Homo sapiens: one gene and its partners. The protein of the gene in region 2 purifies or fractionates together with the protein of the main gene of each other region. This does not show direct contact. Each region holds a gene or a part of one and is shown on either strand. Other genes may lie near its edges.

Region 1 (7,025 bases), on a different chromosome or scaffold from region 2:
AGTTTCACTTTTTCACCCAGGCTGGAATGCAGTGGTGGGATCTCAACTCACTGCAACCTCTGTCTTCCTGTTTCAAGCTATTCTCCTGCCTCAGCCTCCTGAGTAGCTGGGATTAGAGGCACCTGCCACCATTCCTGGCTAATTTTGTATTTTTAGTAGAGATGGGGTTTCACCATGTTGGCCAGGCTGGTCTCAAACTCCTGACCTCGTGATCCACCTGCCTCGGCCTCCCAAAGTGCTGGGATTATAGGTGTGAGCCACCGCGCCCGGCTGTTAGTGTATCTTTTAATTTTAATGGCCTTCCTGTGGTTCTTCTGTCTGAGAATGCCTAGGAGTCTCTTTGTTCTATGCTTTGTTGAAAAAGCCTGGGCTAGGATTCCAGAGATCAAGTTGGTCCTCCCCACTGAGTGGTCTCAGCTCACCACCTCCTTCCCTTGGAATCTTCTTGCCGATGAAGAATGCCCAGGGAATTGGGCTAGGACTAGGGTAGGAGATTTCAGTTTGTGCAAGTCCAAAAACTGATTTGTTTTGTCTGATGTAGTCAGGGGAAATAAAGTTGGCTCTTGTTTAGGGCCTTATAGGCCAAGTTTTTTAGTAAGTTGTAGATTCCCATGGTTTAGACATGAAACATCAAAGAACTGAATTGGCATGTCAGAAGATGGGAAAACGAGACTGAAGAAGATAAATCTTAAACACTTGAAGTGTCTCTGAGTTCATTTCATCAGTGACCAGGTACAGGTTACCTCTGTACCTGTGGGTGAGGGAAGTCTAAAGAAAAATCCAGGCCGGGCGCAGTGGTTCATGTTTGTAATCAGAGGACTTTGGGAGGCCAAGGTGGGCAGATCATTTGAGACCAGCCTGAGCAACATGGTGAGACCCCCATCTCTACAAAAAAACCACAAAAATCAGCTGGGCATGGTGGTGCACACCCAAGTCCTAGCGACTTGGGAGGCTGAGGTAGGAGAATCGCTTGAGCCCAGGAGGTGGAGGTTGTGGTGAGCCGTGATCGTGCCATTGCATTCCAGCCTAGGTAACAGAGCACGAGACCCTCTCGAGGGGGGGAAAAGAAACGAAAAATCCAGGAACAGGTAGGCCTTTTCTGTTCTTTCTGCAATTGAATCTGTTTTTTTTTTGTTGTGTTTTTTTTTTTGTTTCGTTTTGTTTTTTTTTTTTGAGATGGAGTCTCATTCCGTCACCCAGGCTGGAGTGCAGTGACGCTATCTCGGCTCACTGCAGCCTCCGCCTCCCAGGTTCAAGAGATTCTCCTGTCTCAGCCTCCTGAGTAGCTGGGATTACAGGTGCACACCACTGTGCCCAGCTAATTTTTTTGTATTTTAGTAGAGATGGGTTTCACCATGTTGCCCAGGCTGGTCTTGAATTCCTGAGTTCAGGCAATCCACCTGCCTCAGCCTCCCAACGTGCTAGGATTACAGGCATGAGCCACTGCATCTGGCCGAATCTCTGTTGTAGTGGGAATCAAATGATTGCCCAACTCTCAGGAGACATAGCCCTGTTGCTTCTGATTAAGGAAAGGGTTAAGACTTGTAACTTAAATAAATAAACAGAACAAAAAAGGATTGGAAAATGGAGTCCCTGGCAGAGAAAATAGCAAACTGGGCTTATTGAATGCATGCCATTTTGCTACACTTGCTCCTGTTGCCTCCTCCCCCACTGCTGGAGGCGGGAGGTAGAGGATCTTTCTGCTGGAGGCAGGCAAAGGATATTTCTTTGGTTTTTGGAGACAGGGTTTCACCATGTTGGCCAGGCTGGTCTCAAACTCCTGACCTCAAGTGATCCACCCACCTTGGCCTCCCAAAGTGTTGGGATTAGATGTGAACCACCGTGCCCGGCTGGTAGGGGATCTTGAATGTTGCTGTTCCTTTGCCCTTAGCATTTGCACCAGGTTGTCTGCACAGAAACGATGACCCCTCTTGTTGCCTGTTGGAAGTCTGTTTGTTCCAACCCTGTGTTTTCTTTCCTTGCAGCTGGTCCTGGACTCCCAGAAGCGAGTCTTCTCCTGGGGCTTTGGTGGCTATGGCCGGCTGGGCCACGCAGAGCAGAAGGATGAGATGGTCCCCCGCCTGGTGAAGCTGTTTGACTTCCCTGGGCGTGGGGCTTCCCAGATCTATGCTGGTTACACCTGCTCCTTTGCTGTCAGTGAAGTGGGTTAGTGATTTCTGCCCCCTGGCTTATCAGTGCTCTGGTGCGGAACCGTGTAGCCATTGTCCTGTCCCTAGACCACGAACCCCAATTCTCTTTACCTCCCAGTGTTCTTTATTTTTTTGAGACAGGAACTCGTTGTGTTGTCCAGGCCGGTGTCGAACTCCTGGGCTCAAGCAGTCCTACCACCACAGCGTCCTGAGTAGCTAGGACTGCACAGGCACGCCACCACGCCTGGCTCCAGTTATCTTTTAGACAGAACACTTGTTTGCCATCCCGTCCTCTTTTCACCCTGATAATACTGAAGATGAGACTCAGCTCTCGATGTCTGGTCACGCTGGGAACATGTTTTGTCTTCCCTTAGGTGGTCTGTTTTTCTGGGGGGCCACCAACACCTCCCGTGAATCTACCATGTACCCAAAAGCAGTGCAGGACCTCTGCGGCTGGAGAATCCGGAGCCTGGCTTGTGGGTAGGTGGCAGCATCTCCTGTGGGTATGAGGTCTCTTCCTTTCATGGGGGTGTCAGACACACCCATGGGGTGCCCCTCCCTGATGGGGCTCTGTTTCTGCTGCCTGTTGGGCTGTCCTCAGCAGGCCATCTGACACACTGAATCCCAGAGTCCGGGGGTACAGGAGGGGAGAGGGCCCATTTGCTGCTAGAACAGATGGCTGTTCCCTGTCTTGTGGGAAGAAAGTCATTTTGAAGGTTTCTGTTCAAAGAAATAAACAAGCAGAGCTTGATGTATTCCTACGCTGCAGGTTGAAAATTATACGTAGTTGGAAACGTAGCAGGACTTGAGTTGCTGTGACACTGGGAAGACGACATTGTCTTGGCAGCAGTGGTTTGTAGTTCATTTCAGGACACCTGTTGAGTTAGCTAGCACTTCTTGCTGAGGAGTTGGATTTATCAGCTGGCAGGTGTGGGTGGAACAGTATGAGGGGCCTCTGTCGGCGTGGCTTTAATCTGTTGAAGGCTCTAGCCCTGCCCAAATCATTATGCATGAAGGCTGCTCCCTCTGGAACAGGCTTTCACTTTATCCTGATCTGGTCTCCTCTTCCCAAAGCGACCTCCCACTGAGAGAGAGCTGTGCAGGATGCACAGCAAGGTCCCCTGCCTTTGGCCCCTAGGCCTGTCTAAGGGCTTTGTTGTTTTGTTGAAGCGTTGAGTGGCCTGCACGGAACAATCTTAGGATTGAGGAGAAACCTGTTGGCCCTGTTATTGTGTTTGCTACTTGGAATGAGTACGCCAAGGGAAAAGTGGCAGCTCACACTCATGCCCTTGAGCCATAGCTGCGTGGGTGCAGGTCTGGGGCTGCTGGCCCTGCAGTGACAGCCTGCCTGTTTGCAGGAAGAGCAGCATCATTGTGGCCGCCGATGAGAGCACCATCAGCTGGGGTCCGTCACCGACCTTTGGGGAACTGGTAAGCTGTCACCTGTGCGGGTCAGGGGAAGTGGAAGCCAGTCAGGGTGGCTCATGGCCTTTGGGTTCTCTCCACCTGTCTCCCAAAACACACAGAAGAAAAACATTTGGGATTCCCCCCTTATTGTATTAAGGTTTGCAACACGATTGAGTCCCATGAGTTTTCAAGGACAATTCTGTGCTAGTCAGATAATTCTGAGTCATCTCTGCACATTTGTAAACTCTGAAAATTGGGACTTTTCAGATCCGGTTTCCCCTCACATTTTGTAAACCACAGTTGGGTTATGGTAGGAAAAGGGCCTGTTTGTTCCCTCTCCCCTGGAGGCCTAAGTCAGTGGGAAACTCACAGTTGTGGGTGATTTGAGGACATTCTTCATTTTTCCAAATTGAGTTTAAACCTGTGTTTCTGTTGTTAATACCAGTTACTTGAGTGATGAGGTTAGAACTCATGACCCTCAATTTCACACACGTGGCCTTCCGCAAACAAATGTCTTTCATTCTTAGATCCTGGTGCTAGGTGAGTCTTTTTTTTTTTTTTTTTTGAGATGGAGTTTCTCTGTCACCCAGGCTGGAGTGCAGTGGCGCGATCTTGGCTCACTGCACCCTCTGTCTCCCAGGTTCAAATGATTCTCAGTTCTCCTGCTTCAGCCTCCTGAGTAGCTGGGACTCTAGGCGTTTGCCACCACGCCCAGCTAATTTTTGTATTTTTGGTAGAGATGGGGTTTCACCATGTTGGCCAGGCTGTCTTGAACTCCTGACCTTAGGTGATCCACCCGCCTCAACCTCCCAAAGTGCTGGGATTACAGGCGTGAGCCACTGCACCTGGCCAAGGCGGGTCTTTGAGTTTTTGTTAGGAAGACTAGCTTGGCTGTGGAGTGCATCCTGATCTGCCTACACTAGTCATGGTTTGATTCTCCGCTTAACTCTTGGTGGTCTTAGTTTTAGTCCCTTATTTCTTGTTAGAAGCACAGTCTGTCTCCCTCTCCTGCACTCTTGTGGTTGCAAGGTACTCTTGTGGTTGATGGAGAGGAGGGGAAGGAAGGGCGTTCCTTGGTCCCTTGAGCTGTGGCTGGGATGGATGGTGAATGCACCTTTTTCTCGGGGCTCTGCACACCCTTGGAGTCTGGCTCAGATGCTCTGGTGGCCCGATTTGAAACATTGACAGGAAAGAGACAGAGCCTGGCCCAGTTTCTACAGATAGTTCTTAGAGGAGGAAGGATGTTTTCTGGGGCCTATCAGAAATAGACTTTGACCTTCTAAATATAAATTTTGAAACTAGAGGGGAGCAAGGGAGACTTTTTGGGGAGCTTCTCAAGGGTGAGAAGTTGGCCTGGCACCTTGGAGGGAACATCTACTGTGTGGGAAGGCCCGAGGTGGGGCCTGGCAGGAGATGAAACCAGGGACATGTGGGCAGGCCTGGGCTGGGGAGGGAGGGTCCTCCTCTCCCGCCCTGTGGGACCCTCTGTTTCACCTGAGCCAGGGCCTTCAGTCTTTCAATTGCCCAGCTCCACACCTTTGCACAAGACTCCCCCTTAGCTGCGCCAATTCATCCAGTTCCTTCTACCTCTGGGAGGGAAACTGGTTCTCTGGTGCCATTGCTAATAGTCTCCCTGTCACGCTTAAGCCCTTTTATTTTGTTTTGTTTTGGATGGTGATTATTCCACTCTGGATGGTGGAGGCATCAAGGGCATTTGGTCAGCCCGTGTTCTTGGTCGCTTTGGTCCTGAAGGGCCGCAGTTGCCATTCTTCCTGCACTCGTGGTGTCATCTCTTGTCACCAGTGCCATACTCCCCAGAAGGGACTTGTGCACACAGAAGTCCTGCAGGCTAGAGTTGGGCACCTTGGTCTTCCTTAGGTTAAGCGCTAGTCGCCTGCTGGTGGCACCTTTTGTGGATAAACTTGGATGATTCCACCTGGCCCTTGTGTGCAAGGGTGGCCGGGCTTGTCATGGGCCAGAGGGCATCATCACTGGCTTCTGGTTAGTGGGGGCCAGGAAATGTTGCCGTGATTCCCCACTTGTGGACTGAGCCACATGGATCCTCGATTGCGAACATCTTGTTTGCTTCGCCAGGGCTACGGGGACCACAAGCCCAAGTCTTCCACTGCAGCCCAGGAGGTAAAGACTCTGGATGGCATTTTCTCAGAGCAGGTGAGTGGGGGCAGCTGTGCCAGCTCGGGGACGTGTCCGTACCCAGTGGTATGTCACTCCTCATGATTTTGATCATCGCAGTCTGTTTGGGTTGTCTTGTTTACCATCTCAGCTGGCTTTCCTGGTGTCTCACGCTAAGATTTGTTTGAGAGGTAACAATCATTCTGCAGGAGAGAGTGCACAGGGTTGCTGGCCAGGCTGGGTGGCTGTCCTCACCCTTGATGACAGATGGCACCAACTGGCCGCAGCAGATCCACTCTCGGGCGAGCACATCGCTCGCGTCTCCATCACACCCAGGACTCAGATCCACTGGGCTGGAGGCAGGTCCGCAGGTCCACAGAGTAGAGGCTGCGTGGCTGCAGGAGTCAGATGGCGGGGTGAGGCCCCTGCGGCTCAGTCAGCCAGCCTGCTGGCCCTGTCTGCCAAGACACAGAGAGGGGTGGTGCACCTCACCCAGGCAGGATTGTGAGCCAGAGAGGGGGGGGATGGAAGTGGAGCTGGAGCCATGTCCCCACCTGTCCCTGCTGATAAGAGGTGGCCCAGTGGGCTTCCTTCCAGCTGGGTCTCCCAGGGCAGCCTGGAAGGCTCTGATTGGCAGAGCGTTGGTGGCAGTCACATGGAAACTAGCTGTCTTGGGCAGAGGGGCTTTTTGCAGTTTTCAAGGGCACTCTGTTTTTCTCCATGCTGACCCGCTTTAGCAGCCCAGTTTCCAGAGTCTCTTCAACGCATTGATTAGTCCAGGCGCCTCAGGCACACCCAACGCTGATTTGTCCCCCCAGGTCGCCATGGGCTACTCACACTCCTTGGTGATAGCAAGAGATGAAAGTGAGACTGAGAAAGAGAAGATCAAGAAACTGCCAGAATACAACCCCCGAACCCTCTGATGCTCCCGGAGACTCCTCCGACTCCACACCTCTCGCGGCAGCTGTCATTTCCATGTGCACTGGGACGGGAAGTCAAACGAGGAATTTAAAAAAGCAAAAGTTGACCGAAGGTGCATTTTTGTTTAGACTCCCTGAGGTTCCGTTTTACACATGATCCAACGTTAACTACCTTTTTTTCTGTATGCTTTCCAAAGTCCTTTTTTTTCCCTTAATGTTGAATTAAAATACTTGCTCATAGTTGATTTACCATTCCTACAAAAGAGGCAGAAACTTTGAGCAATCTAGGTTTTTTTTTTTTTTAAGTTTTTTCTTTCTTCCTCTCCTGAATACACTCCCCAAAACACCCCTTTCCAGTTACAATTAGCATCGTGATCCAAGCAGATGCCACATGGAAGAGGAATCGCCATTTACT
Region 2 (7,091 bases):
AACTAAACAAGCAAACCCTCCAATGGCTTCCCTCAATCTTCGGGCCCTATCTGCATGACTGCCTGCCCCTCCTCCATCTCTCCACTTTCCCCACTCACTAGCTGTTCAACACACAGGCTTCCTGACTGACTTCAGGCAAGCTCCACTCATTTCCACCTCAGGGCTTTAACCCAAGCAGTTCTCGGCCTGGAAGGCTCCTCTCAAGCACCTAATACAGTACCTGGCACACAGTAGGTGCTGAAAAAAACCTGGAAACAGGAAAGAACCTAGTATATCCCTGCTAGAGGAACCAAGAGTGCACCAGGGTGACTCAAATAGAGGCATAAGATGAGTTGGGACTTCAGTCCCAGTGAAGTGGGGAACCTACAGTTTTCAGGGGCCAGCATTCAGAGACCAGATTTGTCTTTTGAAAAGACCCCATTGGCTGCTGTGTGGATCTGCGGAGCAAGAGATCCAGGGAGACCTGCAAGGAGAGAGACCAGACTGGGGTGGTGACCGTGGAGACAGACAAGTGGCAGATCTGCTCACATAAAATGGAGACAATACTACTTTATCTGTATGCATGTCTGTGCCACCCCTGTCTCTGGGTCACCTTTGTGTCTCCAGCATGACCTGGCTCAGAGAAGGGGTCAGCAACTGTTTACCGACCATATCTGTCCTCAGAACTGAATGAAAGATCCATGAGAGGGGCTGGCACGTGACAAGGGTGGCAAAGAAAAACAACACAAATCTGAACCTAGTCTGAGTCCCAGCATTTACTAATGACCCAGAGAGGACCCAGAGAGGAGTTTGCTGCAGGTTCCATAGCCAATTAACCGCAGAACCAGAACTGGCAGCCAGGCAGGGCTAGAGCAGAGGCCCCTCTCAAGGCCCCTCCTGGGAGGGGCCCGGCTGTATGGGACAATGGGTTATGCCCTGTGCTGCTAAGCTCCACCCCTCCACCACCACATGTCCCTCCAGCTAAAAATAACTCCTTCAGTGCCCTCGAGGACACTGTGCCAGCCCCACAGTTTTCCCTGGGACCCTCAACTCCAAAGGCACAGGAGAGGCTAGATGCTGCAATCTCTGGAGCTAAGGACTTGCAAAAGTCACAGGAACACCTGTCCCCAGGACAAGCCAAGAGGAACAGCAAGAGCCCCTGTAAACATCAGTTTCTTCATCTGTAAAGTGTGGATAATCATCCCTAGCTTGCTATGCGCCTTAAGTAAAGATAATGCCATATGATCAAGATCTGGCATACAGCAGGGCCTCCTTCCTCCAGCCCCACCCAGCTAAGCTCCCCATCCCCAAATCCAGCTTTATCTCCACCCACACAACCCAATGGCCCCAATCCTGACCCACTAATCTCTCCACAGTATGACAAGCCCCCATTCCAGCTCTACTATTGATGTGACCTTCACATAACCTTTCTGGGTTCAGTTTCAGCATCCACACAATGGAGACAGTCTACTCTGGTAGCAACTTGATGAACTACTTCAACAGAATCTTTGCAAGTCACCTCCCAAGGGCCTCAGTTTCATGCTCTATATAACGGGATTACGTCCACCTCTATGAAGATTATTGTGTAAACACACGTAAATCACCAGATATACAGCAAGTGTTTCCATAAATGTGGATGGCATTCTCCAGACTTAATAGTGTCTTTTTTTGTTTGTTTTTTTTTTTTGAGACAGGGTCTTGCTCTGTTGCCCAGGTTGGAGCGTGGTGGTGCAATCTCGGCTCACTGCAACCTCCGTCTCCCCGGCTCAAACAGTCCTCCTGCCTCAGCCTCCCGAGTAGCTGGGAATGAAGGCGCCCGCCACCACGCCCAGCTAGTTTTTGTATTTTTGGTAGAGATAGCGTTTCACCACGTTGGCCAGGCTGGTCTCGAACTCTTGACCTCAAGTGATTCGCCCACCTCGGCCTCTCAAAGTGCTGGGACTACAGGGGTGAGCCACCACACCCGGTCCAATAGTGTCAAAGTTACTTGAAAAGCTACCAGCCAAACTGAACTGGTTTTTGCTGAAAATTCACTAGGATTGTTCCGCGTGTATTCGCTTGCACACAGTGGTGAAAGGGTGCGCTCAGAGATCTAGATGGCCTGCGTTCCAATCTTGCTCCATCACCACCAGCTGTAAGACTGAGGGCAAGTTACCTCTGCCTCAGGATTCTCATCATAAAATGAGAACAGTTTCCCTATAGAGCCATGAGACTAGAATAAAGCTAGAAGGCAGTGCCGATCCCACAGGAAACACTAAGTAAACGTTAACTATCCCTGTATTACACTTCAATCGGTGGGACAGCAGGATTTTTCAAACCACTCCAAATTTTCTTCGAGATTTCTGCAAGGCTGCCCCTGCTGGAGGGGTGGGGGACCCCACAGGTTGGGTAACTGGCCCAAAGTCCCAGGGGAGAGGAGGATCGGAGCCGGCCTGGGGCTCGCTTTCCAGGCCTCTCCTCATACACCCTCCGGGGTGCCCTCGCCGTCCCTGTAGGAGGCCCAGAGAGGGGTGGACGCTCGTCGGGGCCGCCCAGCTGGACAGGGTCCGGTCCAGGCCTAGGAGGCCGGGCGCAGGCCCCCCGAGCAGGGTCCGGCAGGTGCCAGCCGTCCCAGGCCGTGGCCAGGTGTGCTCTCCCGCGGAGCACGCCGCCAGTTTGCGGCTCGCAGACCGCGCGGCGGCCCCGGCGTCGCGGGGCATGCTGGGACTTGTAGTCCACGGCCACCCGGAACGGCCCGCTCATGGCCGCGCGAGAACTCCAACTTCCAGCTGGCTTCGCGCGGCCAGAAACGCGCCGAGGCTGCGATTCCAGGGGGTCCAGAGAGCCCCGAGTCGGCCCTGCAGCCCCCGCCACGAACAAGCCCCGGGCGGGTGCCGGGCGGCCGCAACCGGCTGCAGGTCCTGGGACTCACCGACTTTGTAGGGCAGTTTGTCAGACATGCTGGCGGCACTCGTGATGGAAACGGGCGAAGGGGGCTGGGCCTCAGTCTGGGAACAGGAACTGGGCGGGCAGCGCCGAGCAGGGATATGCGCGTGGCGCCGACGCCTTTAAATATCTTCCTCGCACTTGCATATTCATGACCCGCTGGGGCGGGGCCCAACGCGCAGGGCGGAGCCGGAGGGGATTTCGATCCCTGAAAAGAAGCCTCAGAATTTCACAAGGCGTGGCCCCAGGAGTCTCACTCACCGGTCCGGAAGGGAGCGCCGGGAGAGGCCTGAGAGCCAGCCGGGCCGTCCTCTCGCTGGTTCAGCCAGTTGATTCAGTGTCAAAACCCAGCGGAACTGAAATTCCGCCAGTTCACTTCCCTGTGCCTCAATTTCCTCATCTGTAAAATGGGCCAAATGACATCTGCCACACAGATTATTATAAGTAAAGTTGCAGGCCAGGCGCGGTGGCTCACACCTGTAATCCCAGCACTTTGGGAGGCCAAGGCGGGAGGATCGCTTGAGCCCAGGAGTTCAAGACCATCCTGGGCAACACAGTGAGACCTGAACTCTACAAAAAAAAATTAAAAATTAGCCGGGCGTGGTGGCGCGCGCTTGTGGTCCCAGCTACTTGGGACGCGGAGGCGGGAGGGAGGATCTTTTGAGCCTGGAGATCGAGGCTGCAGTGAGCTATCATCCCACCACAGCACTTGAGCCTGGGCGAAAGGGCAAGACCCTATCTCAAAAAAACCAAAACAAAGTTAAGTTGCCATTTGTCAGGTACCTACTGACATCCCAAACATTCGCCTTACTCCAAGTAACCAACACCCTGAATTTAAGTAAGTTTGCATACATTTCTTATACTTTTACTGCATCCGTATATCATTAAATAGTTCTGTGTTTAGCACCTTTATATATCAACCGTATTTACCCTTCTGCAACTTGCTTTTTTCTGTGAGCATTATATTTATGAGACTCATGCATATAGCTTGAGTATATTCATTTTTGCTGCTGTATAATTCAGTCATCCCAGGCATGGGAAGGGGAAATTGGTTTCAGGACCTCTGTGGACTCCAAAACCCTTCTATGTTCAAGTCCCTCATATAAAATGAGGCAGTATTGGCATATAACCTATGCACATTCCTCCGTACACTTTAATCATCTCTAGATTACTTATAACTAATATAATGTAAATGCTATGCAAATGGTTGTTTTGTAATTTGTATTATTTTTATAGTTATGTTTTTTTAATTGCTTTTTTTCCCCTGAATTTTTTTTTTTTTTTATGGAGTCTCACTCTGTCGCCCACACTGGAGTGCAGTGGCACCATCTAGGCTCGCTGCAACCTCCACCTCCCGGGTTCAAGCAATTCTCCTGCCTCAGCCTCCCGAGTGGCTTGGATTACAGGCACGCACCACCACACCTGGCTAATTTTGTTTTTTCTTTTTTTGAGATAGAGTTTGGCGCTTGTTGCCCAGGCTGGAGTGCAATGGCATGATCTTGGCTCACACCAACCTCTGCCTCCCGGATTCAAGCGATTCTCTTGCCTCAGCCTCCCGAGTAGCTGGGATTACAGGCATGAGCCACCACGCCTGGCTAATTTTGTATTTTTAGTAGAGACGGGGTTTCTCCATATTGGTCAGGCTAATCTCGAACTCCCGACCTCAGGTGATCCGCCAGCCTCTGCCTCCCAAAGTGCTGGGATTACTGGCGTGAGCCACCGTGCCCGGCCTCTACTCATTTTTTAACCTAAAAATGAGAAAAGAATTAAACTCTTCTGGCCGGGCGCGTGGCTCACGCCTGTAATCCCAGCACATTGGGAGGCCGAGGCGGGCGGATCACGGGGTCAGGAAATCGAGACCATCCTGGCTAACAGGGTAAAACCCCATCTCTACTAAAAATACAAAAAAAAAAAAAAATTAGCTGGGCGTGGTGTCGGGAGCCTGTAGTCCCAGCTACTCGCAAGGCTGAGGCAGGAGAATGGCGTGAACCCGGGAGGCCGAGCTTGCAGTGAGCCGAGATCGCACCACTGCACTCCGGCCTGGGCGACGGAGGGAGACTCTTGTCTCAAAAAATAAAAAATAAAAATAAGAATTAAGGTCTTCTATGACATAGTAAATGTATTGGTCTCACTTGATCTGTACATCTGACCTCTGTCTGAGAGTCATGAGGGCCGATGTCAAGCAGAGACTTCCTGAGGGAACGAGGGTCCACGCCTGGGAGGTGGGCAGCAGGGTCCTCACGCATCCCTTTCAGCATTCTGCAGTGCATTGCAGTGTGTAGTGAGTCGTGTCAGTCTAACTAAACGTAGGATCATGTTACTAGGTTGTCCTACGAGAACAGAAAAATGGCTTCAAAATATTCCTGCAAAGAAATGGCAAGTTCCAGATACTGTGAAAATTACCAGCACAGCAAACAAGTAGAAAAGGACACAGCTGACAGGTCTCTTTCTGGTATGAATGCTGGTCTTTGTCAGCCATGTTGTAAGGAATGTAATAAAATTTGAGAAAACAATGAAAAAGACACTTTGAAATATGAATTTACGGACCAGGCGCAGTGACTCACACCTGTAATCCCAGCACTTTGGAAGCCGGGGCGAGTGGATCACTTGGGGTCAGGAGTTCCAGACCAGCCTGGCCAACATAGTGAAACCCTGTATCTACTAAAAATACAAAAATTAGCCGGGCGTGATGGTGCACGTCTGTAAACTCAGCTACTCAGGAGGCTGAGGGACAAGAATTGTTTGAACCCAGGAGGCGGATGTTGCATTGAGCCAAGATTGCGCCACCGCACTCCAGCCTGGGTGACAGAACAAGACTGCCTCAAAAAAAAAAAAAAAAAAAGAAAAAAAAAGAAATGTGAATTTACATGCCCTCTCATTAATTAATGATGACTCTCATCCTCACTGTATATCGTGCTTTGAGATATCAGCTAATGAGATATTTGCTAATATTTGTACCGTTAAGTTCATATGAACAAAACTTTGGAGACTGCTGGTCTCAGGAGAAGGTCTAAGCACCTTAGTCTGGCCTTATGCAACCTCTCTAGCAGCAGAATGTTCTAGCCTATGGATATATTGCAATTGATATAGCCAATTTCCTATTATTTCAGCTTCTTTTTTTTTTTTTTTGAGAAAGAGTGTCTCTCTGTTGCCCAGGCTGGAGTGCAATGGTGTGATCTCGGCTCACTGCAACCTCTGTCTCCCAGGTTCAAAGTGATTCTCGTACCTTAGCCTCCCAAGTACCTGGGATTACAGGCACACGCTCCCACACCCGGATAATTTTTGTATTTTTAATAGAGACGGTGTTTCACCATGTTGGCCAGACTGGTCTTGAACTTCTGACATCAAGTGATCCTCCCGCCTTGGCCTTCCAAAGTGCTGGGATTACAGGTGTAAGCCACCACGCCCAGCCAGGTTCTTTTAATGGATGAACAGTTAAACAAATTGGTACAGCCATACCATGAAATAATACTCAGCAAAAGGAATAAACTTTGATAAATGCAGCAACCTGGATGAATCCTTAGAGAATTATGCTGAGTGACAAAAACCAATTCCAATATATTACATAGTATATTATTTCATTTCTATAATATTCTTGAAATGACCAAATTATAGAAATGAACCACAGATTAGTGGTTGCCAGGTATTAGGTAGGGGACGGGAGCAAGAGAGAGGTAAATGTGGCTGTAAAAGGGCAACATGAGGAAACTTTGTGGTGATGGAATGTTCTGGATCTTGCTTTATCATTGTCAGTATCCTAGTTGAGATGTTTTATTATGGTTTTGCAAGATGTCACCATTGGGAGAAAGCGAGCAAAGGGCATTGGGATTTCTCTGTGTTTTCTTTGTTTCTTTTTTCTTTTTCTTTTTTTTTTTTTTTGAGACAGGGTCTGCTATCTAGGCTCACAGCAACCTCCACCTCTCCCAGGCTCAAGCCATTCTCCTGCCTCAGCCTCCTGAGTAGCTGGGATTACAGGTGCATGTCGCTACCACCCGGCTAATATTTATATTTTTAGTAGAGATGGGCTTTCGCCATGTTGGCCAGGCTGGTCTTGAACCTCTGACCTCAAATGATCCACCTGCTTCAGCCTCCCAACATGCTGAGGTTTTTTTGTTTTTTGTTTTTTGTTTTTTTTGTCGGAGTTTCGCTCTTGTTGCCCAGGCTGGAATGCAATGGCAAAATCTTGG
Region 3 (7,025 bases), on a different chromosome or scaffold from region 2:
GCTGTTAGATTGAATATGGAGTGGGGAAGAAAAAGTAGAATCAAGTTTTAGCTCCCAAGTTTTTTTGCCTGAGGAACCAAAAGGAAGATGTTTCTATTTACCTGATTGGAAAGACCTCAGGAGTTTGAGTTTGCATATTAAATTCAAGATGGTTTATTAAACATCAAAACAAAGGTGCTGAGTAGGCAGTTGTATATATGAGCCTGGACTTTAGAGGAGAAAACTGGGCTGGAGGTATAAATTTGGGGGTTTACCAGCATACAGACAGAATTTTAAGGTGATGAGAGTATGAGATCTCTTAGAATATTTAGAAAAGAGATTTAAGGGCTGAGGACTGAGTAACTTCCATGTGTAGAGGTGGGCAAGATGAAGAGGAACCAGCAAAGAGATTCAGAAGGAATAGACAGTAAAATAAGTGAACCAAGAGAGTGGTATGCTGAGAGCCAAATAAAGTGTGAAGTACTGTGGTATAGTAGAATGAGTATGAGTTTGGGAGCCTGTCAGGCCTGATTTAGTTACTTAATTACCTGAGAGTTCATACAAGTTTCTTGATATCTCAGAGCCATAAAATAGGAGTAACACATGCACATGTAAAATACCTAGCCTAACATCTATTGCCCCATAGGTAATATTTGCCAGAAACACATTTGTCAAGTAGTTGAATATATTTTTGTGGTTAATAGTAGTCAAGAAAGAAACAGTATATTCTGACAAGTCTAATATATGAGATTCTTTTAATATAAGAACTTGGTAGCTGTACAATGCATTTGAAAGCCATGTGCAACTGAGAACCAAAATTGAATTATCAATGCACTAGATAGACAAGGCAACTGAAGTAACTTGGGTGGAGAGGTGAGAATACTGTGAAACAATCTCTATGTGGGACTTAATGTACGTCCTATACCTCATTAATTGCTGTGTCAAGAAAGACCTTTATAAAGAAAGGTTATAGCAATGTAGTTTTTGTCTTTGTTATGTATTTCCTATTCCTATAGCTAAAAATCTACTGAGACATACCAGTTTTAACATTTATAGAGGAAGAAGGCTGGGTGCAGTGGCGCACACCTGTAATCCCAGCACTTTGGGAGGCCGAGGCAGGAGGATTACTTGAGCCCAGGAGTTCAACAGGCAACAAGATAAAACCCCATCTCTTCAAAATATTTAAAAATTAGCTGAGTGTGGTGGCATGCACCTGTTGTTCCAGCTACTCAGGAGGCTGAGGTGGAAGGATCACTTGAGCCCAGGAGATCGAGACTATAGTGAGCTATGATTACACCTCTGCACTCCAGCCTGGGTGACAGAGCAGTAAATACCCTGTCTAAAAAATAAAATAAAATAGGCCGGGCGCAGTGGCTCACGCCTGTAATCCCAGCACTTTGGGAGGCTGAGATGGGCGGATTACAAGGTCAGGAGATCAAGACCAGCCTGGCCAATATGGTGAAACCCTGTCTCTACTAAAAATATAAAAGAAATAAGCCGAGCGTGGTGGCACACACCTGTTGTTCCAGCTACTCGGGAGGCTGAGGCAGAAGAATAGTTTGGACATGGAAGGCAGAGGTGACAAGTGAGCCAAGATCGCACCGCTGCACTCCAGCCTGGGCAACAGAGCGAGACTCCGTCTCAAAACAAAACAAAACAAAAAACAAACAAACAAATAAAATTGGCTGGGAGCAGTGGCTCATGCCTGTAATCCTAGCACTTTGGGAGGCTGAGGCAGGTGGATCACTTGAGGCCAGGAGTTTGAGGCCACCAGGCCAACATAGTGAAACCCTATCTCTACTAGAAATACAAAAAATCAGCTGGGCGTGGTGGCACACGCCTGTAATGCCAGCTACTTGGGAGCCTGAGGCATGAGAATTGCTTGAACCCAGGAGGCAGAGGTTGCAGTGAGCCGAGATCATGCCACTGCACTCCAGCCTGAGCGACAGAGCAAGACTCTGTCTCAAAAAAAAAAAAAAAAAAAAAATGAAACCATAGAGGCAGAGATTGTGAGAAATTAATTGTGGTTATTGCTTGAGTCTTTTCAGCATGAAAAAATTTTAATTTGTGACTATTTTCTCTATAAAGGCATAGCAAATGAATCTAAAAAGTTATATGGAGCACAGTTCCACCCTGAAGTTGGCCTTACAGAAAATGGAAAAGTAATACTGAAGAATTTCCTTTATGATATAGCTGGATGCAGTGGAACCTTCACCGTGCAGAACAGAGAACTTGAGTGTATTCGAGAGATCAAAGAGAGAGTAGGCACGTCAAAAGTTTTGGTAAGCAAATTATTATCTGGAAGTCTACAAATTTATATCAATAATATTGGAATCCAGGAGTTAGAGTCCTCAACACAGCCCTTAAATGTTCTACAGTTTTAGAGTGCTTTTCCAGTTACCATACATATCTTTGGTATAAATAGCACTTTTAGATAAAGATTTAAGCCAATAGTGTTTATTTTCTTTTTGCTTGTTTTGCTCATTTTGATTTTTCATTTTACCCCGTAGGTTTTACTCAGTGGTGGAGTAGACTCAACAGTTTGTACAGCTTTGCTAAATCGTGCTTTGAACCAAGAACAAGTCATTGCTGTGCACATTGATAATGGCTTTATGAGAAAACGAGAAAGCCAGTCTGTTGAAGAGGCCCTCAAAAAGCTTGGAATTCAGGTCAAAGGTATTGAAGAACCTCAGAAAAGTTAACTTACATGTTAGGACTTGTTTAATCAAATCTAGTCTTATGGTTTAAATGAGCACAATTACAGTTTTCTCAGTATGCTCAAGGTTGAAAATGTTTTTTATTTTTACAATTACCTCTGGTGTAAGAGAGGTCTCAGTATAAATTTTTAAACTATTGATTCTGCTAATTTAATACATAGATTGATAAATTAACATTTTCTAGCTACTGTTCAGTTCTCTTCTAGTCATTCACTTTTAAAATTATCTTTTCCTGGCCAGGCGCGGTGGCTCACGCCTATAATCCCAGCACTTAGGGAGATCAAGGTGGGTGGATCACCTGAGGTCAGGAGTTTTGAGATCAGCCTGGCCAACATGATGAAACCCCATCTCTACTAAAAATACAAAAAATTAGCCAGTCTTGGTGGTGGGCGCCTGTGATCCCAGCTACTCGAGAGGCTGAGGCAGGAGAATCACTTGAACCTGGGAGGTGGAGGCTGCAGTAAGCAGAGATCATGCCACTGCACTCCAGCCTGGGCAACAAGAGCGAAACTCCATCTCAAAAAAAAAAAAAAAAGAAATTATCTTTTCCCACTCTATTTAATGATATTTATGTACGAGGCTACCCAAGCCCTCCTCAGGTATGGGTATACAGATTATTTTGCAAACAGAAAAGCTTATTGTGGGAGAGGTAAAGATTCTATACTTTTTTTTTAAAGGGCCACTAGTAAACTTCTTAGTCCTTAATAACATTTACTTTTGTAGATACCTTTTATACTTTTTAAAAACAAGGTGCAATTGATAGTTATAATGAAATGAGGTCAGTAGTTTAATGATAAAAGTTATTGTACATATTATGGAATTAATTGGAATTGATACCAAAAGGCTGAATAAAATGAAGACTTGTAGGTAAGTATGATGTGAACATGAGTCTATTTTTTTGAAACTTCTCTAAAATAACAGTAAAAGCATAAAACAGTGTAATACCTTAAGGATGTGGGATAGAGGAGATGACAGAAGACAGATGGTTTCAATAAAGTGTTGGAAAGTGGAAAGCAGATGGGTAAAGGTGGATTTTCTCTGTTTAAGCTAGGGGGGTCTCTCCCAACATCCTGGGAAGGTCCCCAATGGTATCTTCACATGGTGATAGGTTTTTGTGAAATTTGCAAGATATTTTGATAATTTGTAGTTGTTTATTTTCTTTCAACTCTGACTTGTTTTCTGTTAGGTGGTGCTGGAATAGCTGTGGGCATTTTGAAATCAGGCTAAGACAAAGATGAGCTGGGGATGTGCTTAGTATGGGTTTAGTGGTATATATGTGATTTGCAATTATTTCTGTGTATAGTTAAGTACTTGTTAGCCATCCCAGTATAACTTAAGATTTTTAGTATCTTATTTGTTATTCTGGTTCTTGAAGGAGTCCTTCAAATTGTAAAACTTGGATCTGTCCCTGGTAACTGACATAGCAGAATGGAGGAATTCACAACCTTGGGGTGGGGTGGGAAGGAAGCCAATAAAAAGCAAGCTGATTTGTGCTGTAGACTTCTGGGGAGGCTCAGGAATTTGAAGCATTGGGTTCTTTTTGGGACATTGGTCTCTGGGTTAGCCTAAAACAGGGATTAGTTAAAAATCTGAGAAGCAGATCCTTTTCCTTAGCACAGGAGCAAACTGTGCTCTCCTTCCCCATCAGAACACTGTGGATGTATTCTCTAGAGGGGCTAAACGAGAGGTTCTGGGCTTGAGCCTACTAATACCAGGCATAGTTGAGGGTGGAGGTAAGACTCTACATTAAGAACAGGATTAAGTAAAATTCTCTATGCTGAATGGTGATTCCCTCTTCCTACCACTTCCTCTGTTTAACTGCCAGAATGCCAATAGGCAGGAGAGTAGATATGTCTTCTCTGGGTAGTTGACCAGGTACAGGAAAGACCTACAAATTCACTGGCTTTTCCACAATGAAATAGCCAGCTGCCTTGTCATCTTACGGTGAAGGCCTCCAGTAGCTAAGTTTTATTAGCAAATAGAGATCTTAGTTTTTAGTTTCTTGTCATTAAATAAAAAGCCAAGGATTGTTAAATGTATGTTCATAAATATTAGTTTTACAAGACACTAGGGTGTGATTCCAACAGCTTTGACTCCGTTTAGGAGCCGGTGCTTTTGACTTCTTTGGGGCTAAGCTTCTTGCTGTGGCTTCTGCTTGTTGCTCTGGTGAAGCACTGAAGAGAGGGAAAACAATCAGCATAAATTTTTTTTTTTTTTTTGAGACAGAGTCTTGTTCTGTTGCCCAGGGCAGAATGCAGTGGCACAACCTCGGCTCACTGCAACCTCTGCCTCCCAGGTTTAAGCAATTCTCTTGCCTCAGCCTCTGAGTAGCTGGGATTGCAGACATGTGCCACTACGCCCCACTAATTTTTGTGTTTTTAGTAGAGATGTGGTTTTGCCATTTTGGCCAGGCTGGTCTCACACTGCTGACCTCAAGTGATCCACCCAACTTGGCCTCCCAAAGTGCTGGTATTACAGGTGTGAGCCACCGTGCCGGCCCTAATCAGCATAATTTGTGATGTCATGGCCCTAGATCTAAATGCCAGGAGATTCTCACAGAAACAAAATTTAATGAGTGCCTGTATCTGAATTCTGTTACTCAGGATTTATTGATAGTTCTTTTTCTTTTCTTATTTTTTTTTTGGGGATGGAGTCTCTCTCTGTCACCCAGGCTGGAGTGCAGTGGCACAATCTCTGCTCACTGCAAGCTCCGCCTCCCGGGTTCACACCATTCTCCTGCCTCGGCTTCCCAAGTAGCTGGGACTACAGGCACCCGTCACCACACCCAGCTAATTTTTTGTATTTTTAGTAGTGATGGGATTTCACCATGTTAGCCAGGATGGTCTTGATCTCCTGACCTCGTGATCCACCTGTCTCGGCCTCCCAAAGTGCTGGGATTATAGGCATGAGCCACCGGGCCCGGCCAATAATTCTTGAATATTGATAGTTTATTGAAATTTGTAGGCAGATTTAGGGGAGATCAAAGGACTGCTCTTCAGACTGGGAAAGAAATAGCTTTTCTTTCTGTATTTTGACTTGTTATTTTTGATTAAAAAACATGTTATACCAATTTAAAACGCTTCTCCCCTTTCCTCCAGTGATAAATGCTGCTCATTCTTTCTACAATGGAACAACAACCCTACCAATATCAGATGAAGATAGAACCCCACGGAAAAGAATTAGCAAAACGTTAAATATGACCACAAGTCCTGAAGAGAAAAGAAAAATCATTGGGGATACTTTTGTTAAGGTACCTTTGTTTTTAATATCCTCAACATGTACTATTTTTGATGTGAATCTTAGTATTTGTTTTTCCTTGTCACTATATCAAATAACCAAATTAGCTAATTTTAATCCTTTTTCTTATGTGGCTGAGAGTTTTATTGTATATTGTCATTATATTGACCAGTAGAAACTGTTTTATGTTTTTTTGTTGTTGTTTGGTTTTTTTTTTGTTTTTTTGAGACAGAGTCTTGCTGTGTCACCAGGCTGGGCTGGAGTGCAGTTGCACGATCTCGGCTCGCTGCAACCTCTGCCTTCTGGGTTCAAGTGATTCTCCTGCCTCAGCCTCCTAAGTAGCTGGGACTACAGGGGTGCACCATCATGCCCAGCTAATTTTTGTACTTTTAGTAGAGACGGGGGTTTCACCATGTTGGCCAGGTTGGTCCGGATCTCCTGACCTCATGATCCGCCCGCCTCAGCCTCCCGAACTTCTGGGATTACAGGTGTGAGCCACTATGCCCAGCCAACTGTTTTATGTTTTAATAAACATGTTTGCCTACATTGCCAGGCTATTATTTTAAGAATAGATGTCTTTAAGAGTAGATGTATTCAGCTTATCATAGACTTTAATTCATTGATTATCTCAATGGCTAATTTCAAGCTCTTGAATGGAATGTTCACATACCTTTGTTTTTGTTTTTTTTTTTTTTTGGAGGCGGAGTTTTGTTCTTGTCACTCAGGCTGGAGTACAATGGAGCGATCTTGGCTCACGGCAACTTTCACCTGCTGGGTTCAAGCGATTCTCCTGCCTCAGCCTCCCGAGTAGCTGGGATTACAGGCATGCACCACCATGCCCAGCTAATTTTTTTCTTTTTTTGAGATGGAGTCTCACTCTGCCGCCCAGGCTGGAGTGTAGTGGTGCAATCTTGGCTCACTGCAAACTTTGCCTCCAGGGTTCAAGCGATTCTCCTGCCTCAACTTCCTGAGTAGCTGGGATTACAGGCGTGTGCCACCATGCCCGGCTAGTTTTTGTATTTTTAGTAGAGACGGGGTTTCACCATGTTAGTCAGGCTGGTCTCAAACTCCTGACCTTGTGATCTGCCTGCC

What was found. Proteins that work in one complex are often made in the same cells at the same time.
Region 1: the proteins of AHCY (region 2) and RCC2 purify together in Homo sapiens (affinity purification with mass spectrometry; 2 studies listed by BioGRID, with this or other methods). This does not show direct contact.
Region 3: the proteins of AHCY (region 2) and GMPS fractionate together in Homo sapiens (co-fractionation; 2 studies listed by BioGRID). This does not show direct contact.

What each region holds. Positions count from the first base shown.
Region 1 is NC_000001.11:17,408,678-17,415,702, reverse strand, and holds part of RCC2 (protein RCC2), read left to right. Parts: intron 1-1,985; coding exon 1,986-2,166; intron 2,167-2,524; coding exon 2,525-2,630; intron 2,631-3,508; coding exon 3,509-3,581; intron 3,582-5,651; coding exon 5,652-5,729; intron 5,730-6,508; coding exon 6,509-6,613; 3' UTR 6,614-7,025. UniProt on the Homo sapiens protein: Multifunctional protein that may affect its functions by regulating the activity of small GTPases, such as RAC1 and RALA. Required for normal progress through the cell cycle, both during interphase and during mitosis.
Region 2 is NC_000020.11:34,300,353-34,307,443, forward strand, and holds the start of AHCY (adenosylhomocysteinase), read right to left. Parts: upstream 3,004-7,091; 5' UTR 2,919-3,003; coding exon 2,891-2,918; intron 2,639-2,890; exon of another isoform or gene 1,429-2,638; coding exon of another isoform or gene 1,395-1,428; intron 1-1,394. UniProt on the Homo sapiens protein: Catalyzes the hydrolysis of S-adenosyl-L-homocysteine to form adenosine and homocysteine. Binds copper ions.
Region 3 is NC_000003.12:155,908,625-155,915,649, forward strand, and holds part of GMPS (GMP synthase [glutamine-hydrolyzing]), read left to right. Parts: intron 1-2,067; coding exon 2,068-2,261; intron 2,262-2,489; coding exon 2,490-2,655; intron 2,656-5,794; coding exon 5,795-5,946; intron 5,947-7,025. UniProt on the Homo sapiens protein: Catalyzes the conversion of xanthine monophosphate (XMP) to GMP in the presence of glutamine and ATP through an adenyl-XMP intermediate.